3 separate regions of the Homo sapiens genome follow, and all the other regions are linked to region 3. Evidence: fine-mapped expression QTL. A gene starts in region 3. Each other region holds a variant in brackets. All regions are shown on one strand. Distances are between the middles of the regions.

Evidence for each region. PIP is the estimated chance that this variant, and not a neighbour inherited with it, causes the effect. A credible set is the group of variants that fine-mapping cannot tell apart.
Region 1: its variant is the best candidate, but not a certain one, in a credible set for the expression of ARMCX4 in esophagus muscle (GTEx, PIP 0.74).
Region 2: its variant is the best candidate, but not a certain one, in a credible set for the expression of ARMCX4 in whole blood (TOPMed, PIP 0.64).

What each region holds. Positions count from the first base shown.
Region 1 is chrX:101,423,065-101,427,310 of GRCh38, reverse strand. It overlaps a transcript of ARMCX4 not described here. Among named protein-coding and RNA genes, the nearest start is that of HNRNPH2, 17 kb to the right of the region's middle. The variant A/G (reference allele first, on the strand shown) is at 1,841.
Region 2 is chrX:101,530,863-101,535,108 of GRCh38, reverse strand. It overlaps a transcript of ARMCX4 not described here and the pseudogene PRKCIP1. Among named protein-coding and RNA genes, the nearest start is that of ARMCX1, 18 kb to the left of the region's middle. The variant C/G (reference allele first, on the strand shown) is at 1,946.
Region 3 is chrX:101,483,072-101,487,317 of GRCh38, reverse strand. It overlaps ARMCX4 (armadillo repeat containing X-linked 4), which reads right to left and starts at 1,862. Exons shown (of 6, transcript NM_001256155.3): 1 at 1,788-1,862; 2 at 1,226-1,295; 3 at 46-125.

The DNA of each region.
Region 1 (4,246 bases), 60 kb after region 3:
TCTAAATAAACCTCTTTTCTTTATAAATTACACAGTCTCAGATATTCTGTTATAGTAACACAAAATAAACTAAGACACAAAGTAAACATGTTTAGCTATAGTAGATTTTAAAAACACTGAGTCTTAGACCTCTATTCCCTTCCTAGCCTGGCTTTTTTATTTTAGAGATGTTAACTTTATTTTTCCCCACAAAATGAAAATTATATGTACTCTCTATAGAAAATTGGAAAATACAACAAACTAGAAGGAAAGGAAATCAAAACTCTTGTAACATAGGGTTCAAATAAGCTCTCTCCTTTCTGAGATTTGGCATTGACTCAAGAATGCAGCTAGAGAGTTTCTGGAAAAGTCACTGGACAGACCATCAAGCATAAAACCAACAATGTAGTCCTTAAATGTGATTATACAGATCTATGTTTATCAATGAAAAAGTATGATCAGGACCTATTTTTAGGATATATTTTAGAGTGATGGTTAAGATCATGGGCTTTGGAGTCAGACTACCTGGCTCCAAACCTAGCTAGCTCTTTGTCCTTAAACAAATGACACAACTTTGCTGTACCTCCATTTTACCATCTGTGACAAGGGGGTGATAATAATAATACCTACCTCATAGAGCTGCTTTGGGGATTAAATAAAACACTAGAACACTTAGAGAAGCACTTAGAAAAAAATAAAGCTTGGCTCATAGTAAATTTACCATCAACAACCAGAAGTGAGCCATCAACATTTCTCAGCAGTCCTTCTATTTTTCTCTGGTCAACCTACAACCTGCTCTCACCCTTACAACTCATTGAACCTTCTCCATTCTCTTCAGCCTTCCAACTCCTCCTCCTTATTATCTCTACATGCAGATGACCACACCCTCATTTACAGAAAAAATAACGGGGTTGGGGGAGCCTTTAGAAGGAAGTTGTCTCTCATCTTCCTAACACCAAACATAAACCAACTATACCTGCACACATCCTACCAGCAGTTAGTTCCTCAATTAAGACAGAGATGCTCTTGCCTTTTAGTGAACACTAATTCCTCCACCTATGCTTTCGATTCCAGATGCTCCTCTCTCTTAGCAAACGTACTCTATGATTTATCCCATCTCTCTGCTGTATTTTTAACCACTCACTCCCTACAGACCCTTAATTGTAAACTTTACACATCCACAAAATTTCTCCATTAAAAAAAGTCCTTGGCTGGGTGCAGCAGCTCAAGACTGTAATCCCAGCACTTTGGGAGGCTAAGGCAGGCAGATTGCTTGAGCCCTGGAATTCGAGACCAGACTGGGTAACATGGCAAGACCCCATGTCTACAAAAAATGCAAAAATTAGCCCAGCGTGGTGGTGTGCGCACCTCTAATCCCAGCTACTCAGAAGACTGAAGTGGGAGAATCGCCTGAGCCCAAGAAATCAAGGCTGCAGTGAGCTGTGATTGTGCCACTGCACTCCAGCCTGGGCAACAGCGTGAGACCCTGTCTCAAAAAAATAAATAAATAAATAATTTGAAAGGCCTCTCTTGACCCGTAGTCTCGCTCCTGCTTCTACCCTGACTTTTCCATGCCCTTCACAGCCAAAGTGCTTCAAATAGCTGCCTATATTCTTTGTTTCCATTACTTGCCTACCGGCTGGGCGCAGTACCTCACACCTGTAATCCCAGCACTTTGGGAGGCTGAGGTAGGCGGATCACCTGAGGTAAGGAGTTCAAGACCAGCCTGGCTAACATGGTGAAACCCCGTTTCTACTAAAAATACAAAAAATTAGTCGGGCATGGTGGTGTGCGCCTGTAATCCCAGCTACTCGGGAGGCTGAGGCAGGAAAATTGCTTGAACCCGGGAGGCGGAAGTTGC[A/G]GTGAGCCGAGATCGCACCATTGCACTCCAGCTTGGGCAACAAGAGTGAAACTCCGTCTCAAAAAAAAAAAAAAAAAGTGCCTTCCTCTCTCTGCTAACCACACTCCAATCTGTTCCATTCTAGATTTCTGCCCCGTCATTCCATGAAAATAGATCCATCCAGGACACCAATGCCTCCATATTCTTAAATGCAACACATATTTACCAGTCCACATCTTATTTGACCTCTGAGCAGCAATGGACATTGTTAACAGTCCATTCCCTACATCTTGAAACAGTTTCTTTCTTTGGCTTCAATGACACAAGTCCCTCCTAACTTTCTTTTAAACCTCCCTGGCTGCTGTTTCCCAGTCTCCTTTGCAGGCTGACTCTCCTGTACTCCACATGAAATACTGGAGTTTCTCAAGCCTCCTTCTTTGATCTCCTGCATTCTCACTCTGATACTCTTTGGCCTAGACAACCTTATCCCCACACATGGCTTGAATTATCAACTATATCCATATAGCACACAATTTATATATCCAATATATAGGCCCCTTCTGAGCTCTAGATCCATCCATCCAACTACCTATATTCTCTTGGGTGTTCTCAAAGGCACGTCAAACACAGTATGTCTAAGACTAAACTCACAGTCCTCATACCTGAACTTAGTATTCAATGTGATCTTAAAGGTCCTGCTTCTTAATGCTGTTACTCCAAACATCCAGTTGTACAAGCCAGAAACTGAGAAGTCACCCTTGACCGCTCACTCTCACTGTAAGATACAGGGGGGAGTAAACAAAATGTGGATTTTCCTATACTCTCTATTTAATATAGAATGCTTCTGTAGCCCCAGATGTATGGGAGAATTTTCCCATACATCAAGCAATCAGTTTTGCAGTGGACACCAGCTGGATGTCCTCTAATTGAATTCAGTTCTGTTACTACCTACCTGGAGATAGTGTCAGATCCCACAGTTTGAGAGCTCAGGCTCACAAGACTGCTCTCCACTTCAGATGCCAGGTTGTAAGCTATGCTTCTGACTGACCCACTGTAAATCAGGGTTCCCATGACCCTCCCCTTGGGTTTGATTAATTTGCTAGAGAGGGTCACAGAACTCTGAAAAACATGTTTACAGGTTTATTATAAAGGATATTACAAAGCATATAGATGGACAGCCAGATGGAACAATCACATAGGACAAGGTACAGGATAAGGGGCACCAAGCTTCCATGCCCCCTACAAGCACAGCACCCTCTAGGTACCTCCATGTGTTCGCTATCCAGAAGCTCTCCAAACCCAATTCTTTCGGGTTTTTATAGACTTTACAGCCAGGCACGGTGGCTCACGCCTGTAATCCCAGCACTTTGGGAGGCCGAGGTGGGTGGATCACATAAGGTCAGGAGTTCGAGACCAGCCCCACCAACATGGCAAAACCCTGTCTCTACTAAAAATACAAAATTTGCCAGGCGTGGTGGTGCATGCCTGTAATCCCAGCTACTTGGGAGGCTGAGGCAGGAGAATCGCTTGAACCCGTGAGATGGAGGTTGCAGTGAGGCAAGATCACGCCATTATACTCCAGCCTGGGCAACAAGAGTGAGACTCCATCTCAAAATATAAAAATAAAAAATAAATAAAATAGAGGCTTTACTATGTAGGCATGATTGATTACATCATTGGCCACTGCTAGTCAATTTAACCTTCAGCTCCTCTCCCTTCCCCAGAGGCTGGGGGTGTGGTGAAAAAGTCTCAACTCTCTAATCCTGCCTTGACCAGCGCCCCCGTCCTAAATCTACCTAGGAGCCTCAGCCACCAGTTATCTCATTAGCATGCAAAAGATACTTTTTTATTTTTATTTTTATTTTTATTTTTTTGAGACGGAGTTTCACTCTTGTTGCCCAGGCTAGAGTGCAATGGCGTGATCTCAGCTCACTGCAACCTCCGCCTCCCAGGTTCAAGCGATTCTCCTGCCTCAGCGTCCCAAGTAGCTGGGATTACAGGCATGTGTCACCATGCCCGGCTAATTGTGTATTCTTAGTAGAGATGGGGTTTCACGATGTTGGTCAGGCTGGTCTCAAACTCCTGACCCCTGGTGATCCGCCCACCTCGGCCTCCCAAAGTGCTGGGATTACAAGCGTGAGCCACCACCCAGGGCAAAAGATACTCTCATCACCTCAGAGATTCTAAGGGTTTTAAAAGCTGTAATTCGCGAAAATGAGGATGAAGACTACCATGGTTTGAATGTTTGTCTTCTCCAAAACTCATGTTAAAATTTAATTGCCCCATGGGCATGGTGGCTCACGCCTGTAATCCCAGCACTTTGGGGGGCCGAGGCCAGTGGATCGCCTGAGGTCAGGAGTTCAAGACCAGCCTGGCCAACATGGTGAAACATTGTCTCTAGTAAAAATACAAAGATTAGCTGGGCAT
Region 2 (4,246 bases), 48 kb before region 3:
CTCTCAGTAGTTTCTATCAATAATGTGCAAAATGATGAGCATTTTTCTATGATGAGGTTTTAACCATTATTCAGGGTGGTCTTTATGGTGTATATTTTATACAGAAATGCATTATAAATGTTTTTAATTGTGTTCTGTTTTTTGCAGTCTTTAAGTGCCATGCCAATTGTTTTTATATTCTATAGAAGTTCGCTCAAAATACTCAACAGGGGAATGCGCAGCGGACAGTCAGAATGGTTGGAATTTTGGCGTTCTAAGAAAAACTACTTTGCATAAGCATGTGGTCAGATCATTTTGTGCATATGCAGCCTGGATTGGATGTTAAGTAAATGCTTGTTCAGTGCCGATACATTTACTTAAATCTGTTTTTATTTTTGTCATGTAGAATACTACTGGGGTCATCACAATGTAATCTGTATTTCTGTACCTTTTTTTTTTACTTCGAAGTCTTTAAATTAAATGTATAATACCCAAAAAATAAAAAATAAAGTGCCATCTTTACCATAATTATCATAATCTAAACATCCACATATGTTTGTATCTATTTCTTTATTCTTTATTATATTCTTTTAATCTGTTATCTTTTCTTTCTTCTTAAATAACAAACTGTTTTAACTATAGTATCTTCATAATATGTTTCAATATCTGAAGGGTAAGGTCTCTCATAACTCATCTTTTTTATCATTACCTGCCTGTTCACATGTATTTATTTAGAGACTAAAATCTGTTATTTTGTTATAGTCCCCTAAAAACTACCGTTTTTAATTTCAATTTGTGTTGCACATAATTTATAAGTTAACTGAGTGATAATTGGCATCTTTACAGGAATATCTTTCTATCCAACAACCCAGTTTTTCTACTTATTTGTCTTTATTTTTCTCAGCAGTTTCTAAATTTTTTAAATAAAAATAACTCCTAGAACATTGCCTGGCACACTGTAGGTTATCAATCCATATTTACTGAATGAATGGATATGTCTTACAGATTTTTTTGTTAAGTTTATTCAAAAGGAGCTTATCTTTTCCCATGGCTATTGTAATTTAGATTTTTTTTCTTATTTTACATTTTGTTTGTTGTTTTTATATATGAAAGTGATCAGTTTTTATTCTATTGATTTCATAACCAGCCTTTTTATGGAGTTCCAAAGGTTTCAAGTAGTCTTTAGTTGATTCTCTTAGATTTGCTTCATTTGTGGTAATGATAATCTTGCCTGCCCCTTCCTTTCCAATATCAATATTACATTTCTTTCTCTTGGTTGACTGCATTAACTAGTACTTCTAGAACAATGTTAAATAATTGTGGAAATAACTGGCATTCTTGTCTTTTTCCTAATTTTAATGGAAATGCTTCTAGTGTTTATCCCTTAAACATGAAAGGCTTCTTGTTAGAAATGTATATATTTTTGTCATATTTAAGAAATATCCACCTATTCTTACTTCAGTGAGTTGCATCCAGAAGTTATCTGACTTTAAGTACAATTTGATTAAGATTCTGCTTCATTTTTCTATAATTTTCTCTGCTATACCCTTCCTTACATGAAAGCTTTATCCTTGACTGTGCATTCTAATGGTATCAAAATAGCTGCAGTAATTCTAGGCCTCACACCAGCACCTCAGTCAGAGTCCTAGCCAGTAAAAAAATCTAAATCAGATGGTTCAAGGGACTTTAATGTAGGGACTACTTACAGAGGTATATGCAAGATTATGAGACCCAACAAGCAATTTTGTGGCACCCAGAGGTTAGCAATAGCAGGTAGCTGTTACCCTAGGCCTAAGAGGGCAAGAGGAAGAAATAGTATTTCTGGAGCCTAGTGAGAGCTAGAGTCATGGAGGAGGGGACTTCTGGAAGAAGCTAAAATCTTGAAGGGATGCAGTCCCTGCCAATAAAACATAGCCCAAATCAGAGTGGGAGCAGTGAAGAAATACATTGTCTTCTCTCTTCTTCC[C/G]TCCAAAGCTGTGCCAGGGCATTCCATTGACCAAACCCAAGCAGAAGTCAATTACAAATGGAGTCTGGGGGATGCAGTCCCTAAGGATCAGCCGCCCAGGGCATAGAACAAGACAGAGAAGGACAGGAAATGAATCAGGATGTGTGGGAAAATAAAGACTAACCACCATGGCCCACTCCTTTCACATTCAGCATCTATTCTTGTTATTCTATTCTCCCAACAGGGAGGCAGGGACAAAAAAAATCCCATCAGCCACCGTACTGTCACGGGATAATGCTAATTCAATCATATTCGCCCACCTGAAACCTGATTTATAACAATTATCTCAAGTATTTTTCATATAATCAGAGGAAAGGAAGAGAAAAATAAATTAACAAAGATGTGCATAGCTGTTACAGTTTCCCACTGAAGCTGATCATGAGGCCAAAGTCAATAATCAACTTCATTCTTCTACCACCCATTTCATATTCCCCTTACAGAAACCTGGTCAAAATTATTTCCCTGATGTAGTGACCCTAATCTTCAATCCTGTATTTATTGAATTTCTGCACTTTCCCACTTCCCAGGACTATTAGGCAAAGCAGTACTAGGAGGTGCCCCAGTGAGTATCCCTGGGCTCTGAGCATTGCTCTCCCTGTTTGTATATCAGCAACCTTATTTCCCCTTAGTAATTGGGCTCAATCCCTCTAGCCACTATAGCAGCCCCTTTCCCTGCCTGTCAGTTCAGTGGCACGAGAGGACAAAAATGGCCAGAATGTAGTCTCAGCTTTTAATATAATGGAACCATGGCTTTATTCCCTGGTGAAAGCATTCATCCCTGATATACCTAAGAGCCCAAGGTTGTGGAGACAGAAAAAAAGAATCACATACTTCTTCAGTAGGTTAACTGGTGCAATAGTGAAAAGGGCCACTGCTTTCATGACTTCTTTATTCCTAGTCCTGTGTAACCTCACTATGGGGAAAAAAAGCACCATATATGGGTGGCTCTGTTAAAGCATCTATTGCAATCTTGTCGTACAGTACTCCCAGGAACAGCTGATCCCATAACTAAGCTTCCAGTAAGTTATTTATTTTTGTGTAAGGCAAGCTGCTTCTGCATGGTAAAGTAAGTAGTAAAGACTAGTGAATCTTTGGATGTGCACTTCACTTACCATTAAATGAGTTCCTTGGTCAGAGACAACTTTGTGTAGGATACTCTGATGATGATTAAGGCATTCTGGAAGTCCATGGAGATGGTGATGACAGAATCATTGTCAGCAAAGAAGGTAAATGTGTGTCTAAAATACATATTCATTTCCATGAGGAAAAGTTTCTGTTTTCATGATGATGAAAGGTGTCCCATGTAATAATCCTAACACCATGGGACTGGCTGATGCCCCTAAGGAATGGTGTCTTATAAAGGCTCATCATCTTCTCTGTTGTCAGGTTGGGCACTTAGTATTAGTACAAGATCAGCCTTGGTGAGTAGAAGTTCGTGTTGTTGAGTCCAGGCATAGCTTCCATAATATCGATGCTAAAATCTAGCAAAGATAACATAGACATAAAAATATGACTATTTGCACTATTCTATTATTTTGCCACAGTACTAGCTTGAATTTACTACTATTCTATTTTGGATATTTACATCTATAGTTCTAAGTTAGACTGACCTCTCATGTTTACTTTTTTACTTCTATTCTTCTTTGTTTGGACATAAGCATTATGTTAGCCTTAGAGAAAGAATTAGGTAAATTTCTACATTTTCCTAAGCTCTAGAACACTTTAAATTGTATAAGAATTATTGAATCCTTGACAATTGTTGTTGTGGGAAGAATAATGGCTCCTCAAAGATGTCTACATATTGGAACCTGTGAATATGTTACCTCATATAGCAAAAGGGACTTTGCAGATGTGATTATGTTAAGAATATTGAGATAGGAAGATTATCCAGTTCTATCTGGGTGGGCCCAGTGTAATCACAGCGTCCTTGTAAAGGAAGGAAGGAAGCAGATGAGTCAGAAAAAGATGTGACAATAGAATCAGGCAGTGAAACAGTGGAATTCAGGCCGCCTGTAGAAGCTGGACAATGCAAGGAAATAGATTCTCCACTAGAGCATCCAGTGGTAACACAGCCCTTTCAACCCATTTTAGTCTTCTGACCTCTAGAACTGTATGATAATAAATTTGTCTTGTTTTAAGCAATTGAGTGTGTGGTAACATTTTATACAATTTGTTATAGCAGTAGGAAACTAGTGTAACAGCTATTTTTAAAGAACAAAAGAGGAAAAAAGTATTTTCTATTTACTCAGATATTTATCATTT
Region 3 (4,246 bases):
ACCCTCTCTTGTCATCCCCAGAGACTACCCCCACTTCACACCAACCTCCATGCTTCTAGATTGATCTCCTCCTCTTTCCCTTGCTTCCAATGGTAAACAGCCCTACTGCAGGCCTATGGGAAGACCTTGGAACAGATGGAGAAAAAGAAGAGAGTGGATGTTAAGTACTTGTGACACTTACCATCTAAGACATAGGTCCCTGTACCTGCCTGCCTGGATTTAGAGACCCATTTGCTGGCAGAAAAAAAAAAAAAAAAAAGCCTGGGGCTTCCCCAGCACTGAAATGGGAAGGATGGAAAAGGGAGGCAGGAAAAGTAAAAGGCAACAGACAGAGGCACGTTATTTTATTTTATTTTATTTTATTTTATTTATTTTATTTTTTATTTATTTTGAGACAGAGCCCCACTCTGTCACCCAGGCTGGATTGCAGTGGCAAGATCATGGCTCACCACAGTCTCGACCTCCCAGGCTCAAAAGATCCTCCCACCTCAGCCTCCCAAGTAGCAGGAACTACAGACTGTGCCACCATACCCAGCTAATTTTTAAATTATATGTAGAGATGAAGTCTCGCTATGTTGCCCAGGCTGGTCTTGAACACCTGAGCTCAAGCAATCCTCTTGCTTGGGTCTCTCAAAGTGCTGGGATTACAGGCAAGAGCTACTAGGCCCAACAAGGCAAATTATTTTAAAACCACCTGTAGGGTTCTAGGGATTTCCCCAAAAGCCCACCATTTCCTTCACCAAGATGGTCAGGTAGGTAGAGGGATCTGGAAAACTGAAGGATGGCAGGAGAGATGGGAGACCCCAGATCCCATACTCTAGAACCACAACCTACTGCTGTCCACGTCCCTTTCAACCTATCTCTAGGAGTCTCCAGCAGAAGAGAAAAGCTATAGGGGAAGCCTTTTGCTTCTACAAAATCACTATCCTTCCCCACCAAAGGCTATCTAAAAAATAATAATAATAATAATATTCTTTAATATAATTTATCTTTTTCTCAATATTATCTGAAATGCAAATAAAAGCATCTGTAGAAAAGTTTGCTGTCTTCATTGGTCTTCAACATACAATTTAAAAGTCCTAAGCTTGGTAAGTAAAATGCAGTTTAGGGAAAGTCCCCAAGCTAGCCCCACCCCACATCCCATTCAGACAGCCGCACCTAAGTTCCTGTCATAGAATTCATATGGAACTCCAATGGTTTAGATAGTGTCTGTACTCACACTAACCTCCTTGATCCAGTGCAGTTTTCTCCTCTCCTTCCTTTCTCCTCGCCGCAAACAGTGCTACACCGAACTACTGTCCGACAGACAGGAGAGAGTAAAACCACTTAGTGTTGGTCTAGAGCCCAGGACATAGATCCCAATACTCGCCTTTCCGGGTTCAGGAACCTGGTTATCAAACGTCCCTCCCCACAGTCTGAGACACCACCCTTACCAACCCCACCGTCCAGTCTCTAAGGCCCACCATTTTCTCTGCAAACGCCACCGTGGCGCATCCCTTCCACTAAATTGAGCAGGAAGCGAGCGGACATGTGTGGCCAGTGATTAGAGCGATGGGCATCTCAATCTCTGTATTTCCCTCTGGCAGAGACAATCTCCCCACAAATCAAAGCCCACGGTTCGCCTGCACAGATGTAGGCGGGGGCAAGGGGGCTAGGGAGAATCAGAGGCAAAGGCTCCTCGAACTTGAGGCAGCATAGACCACCGCCCCCTCAAGCCCCGTAACCGCTGCCGGGGTCAGTGAGCTTCTGCCGGCCTGGCCAGGGCGCGCGGGCCCCAGGGCCCTTACCTGCTCCGCTTTCCCCGGGCCCGATGCCAGCCCGCCGAGCGCAGGGCAGCGGGGAGCTGGTAGCCAGATGCGAGTGACGACTGCAACGAAGGCTGCGTAGCTCTGCAGCTCCGGGTCACGTGAGGACCGCGCGTCACCGCCGAGCTCGCCCTCCTCCCCAGCACCCCCTACCACCCACCAAGGGCCGGCGGCCAGTCACCAGGAACTCCCCCCTCCTCCACTCCGCACGCACAGACATCCCCGTTCTCTGGTCTGTGCTCGGTGCCCCAGTGCGCACGCGTTGTCACTCATCTCCGTCCTCTCCAATCTGAGGGCCCACAAGTGGCATCATCGCCTTGTGGTTGGAGTTTACCCATCTTCAGTTACAGGGGAGGGTCTGCATCCCCCTACCCACTCCCGGCCCTTGGCTGTGGCCTTTTATGTTTCTTCTTTGAGTAATCACTTATTTCTCTCTTAGACTATAAGACCAGCACTCCCCACCCGCCCCCTACACGACCTGCCCTCTCTAAGTACAATGCCTGCACCAAATGGGCTGTGGAAGGGGGTATCAGGAAGGAAAGCAGAAGGTGCAAGTAGAGCTTTAATTTTCTTTTTCGTGTTCCTTTTTTTTCTTTTAATATGACATTCTTTTCTAATATTGTAATCAGAAAATACAGTATAGCCATTTTCATTTGACACAAAAAATATTCAGGGTGTAAAAATAACAAAAGACTCATTCTTTTGTTTACATTATTTTGTGCCACATTTTAAAATGTCTTCTGTTACTGCAAACTATTTTACAGCTTTCAAAATTGACTAGTAATTCTTGACATTTTAAATACAAAATTGTCCTAAACAAAACCAGCACGTATTCAATATGATCTATAAGTTAATCTTTGGAAAGACATTTCGTTTTCTAATATTGACAATTTTACACAGGTGATTTGTAACTTTTGAAGTTCTGGCTGAACTCAGCATCTTTTTTCAGGTGTCTAAGACCTTCTTCAGAGAAGACTTCTAGAGGATATATTTAAGACCCAACTCCTGATGAGCCTAGTGCTTTACTAGTGACTTACCAAATTAACCTGCTTTACTAGTGACTTCCCAAATTAACCTGTTTTCCATTCAAGGGGCTTTATTTGGATTTTACATAAGCATGTAATCAGATCAGCCTCACCACACCCATGGAACAACCAACTGCTAGAGCTTGGATGGAAAGGAGACTTAACAGGTGGAATTTTCATCCGTCGTAACACTTGAGATCTCGCCGGTGTCTGCCATTCATGTACTACATACTACCCTAGCAGTGGCGAGTGTTCAATATTTTCCAGTGGAGATGGTGGTGAGGGTCTGTGGATGACTGTGAATCACTGCAACACACCTGATGTCCGTGTCATTATTTTTTTCCCTCACAAGTGGAAGGGCAATGTACAGGATCCCAAGCAATTGCCAAGAAAAAGAAGTTTTTTCATGTCCTGCCTTGTGTTACAACTTCACTGCACCTCCCATACAAGCCCCTCAGAATAATCCCAAAACTCAGGGACCAAATATGCAGAAGTTAGTCCCCACGCATCCACCTGTCCCCGCTGAGGAGTCATACTCCAAATATAGACCCTCCAGGCAGCCTCTTTCTTAGAACATTGAAATAGGACACCCCAGAGGGAGGGGCTCCACTGTGAGGGGCCCCTGTGTGGAGGAGGCCCTTTCAGGAGCCAAGAAAGGAAGTCCTAGTGCCTTACAATCTTACTAATGGCTTTTCAGAACTCAATTGAAAGTGACGAACTTACTTTCTCCACCAAAGGAAAATATTGATAAATTAATTGCATACAAATTTTAAACTTTGGTAAAGTAAAAAAAAAAAACCATAAACATTGACTGTCAAAAGGCTAACTTGTAATAATCTAAAAGCTCTTACAGATCATTAGTAAAATGATAAACAACCCAATAGAAAAATGTGCCAAAAGACATGAACAGATTTGTTCACAGAAAAGAAATAGATTACTAATAAACATATGAAAAGATGCTCAAACAAAGAAATGCAAATCAAAGCAACTATGCCTTACCATGTTTCAAGTATGATTTTCTCAAAGTTTAGAAACTTGATAATATTGTTGACTGGTTTGTCAAGAAATGGGCACTCCTCTACTCTGTTGGAGGCAGATATTGATGCAAGCTTTTTATATAGGGCAATTTGGCAAACTCTATTAAATGATAACTATAATATTTCACAAATTCTTTGACCCAATAATTCTATTCCTTGGAATTTAGCCAACCTATATGCCTACACAGTTTCACAAAGATATATTTACTAGAATTTTTTTTTTTCGCAATGCTTGTAAGGTTTGAAAAAACTGACGCAGCCGGGCACGGTGGCTCACACCTGTAATCCCAGCACTTTGGGAGGCCGAAGCAGGTGGATCACGAGGTCAGGAGTTCAAGACCAGCCTGGCCAACGTGGTGAAACCCCGTTTCTATTAAAA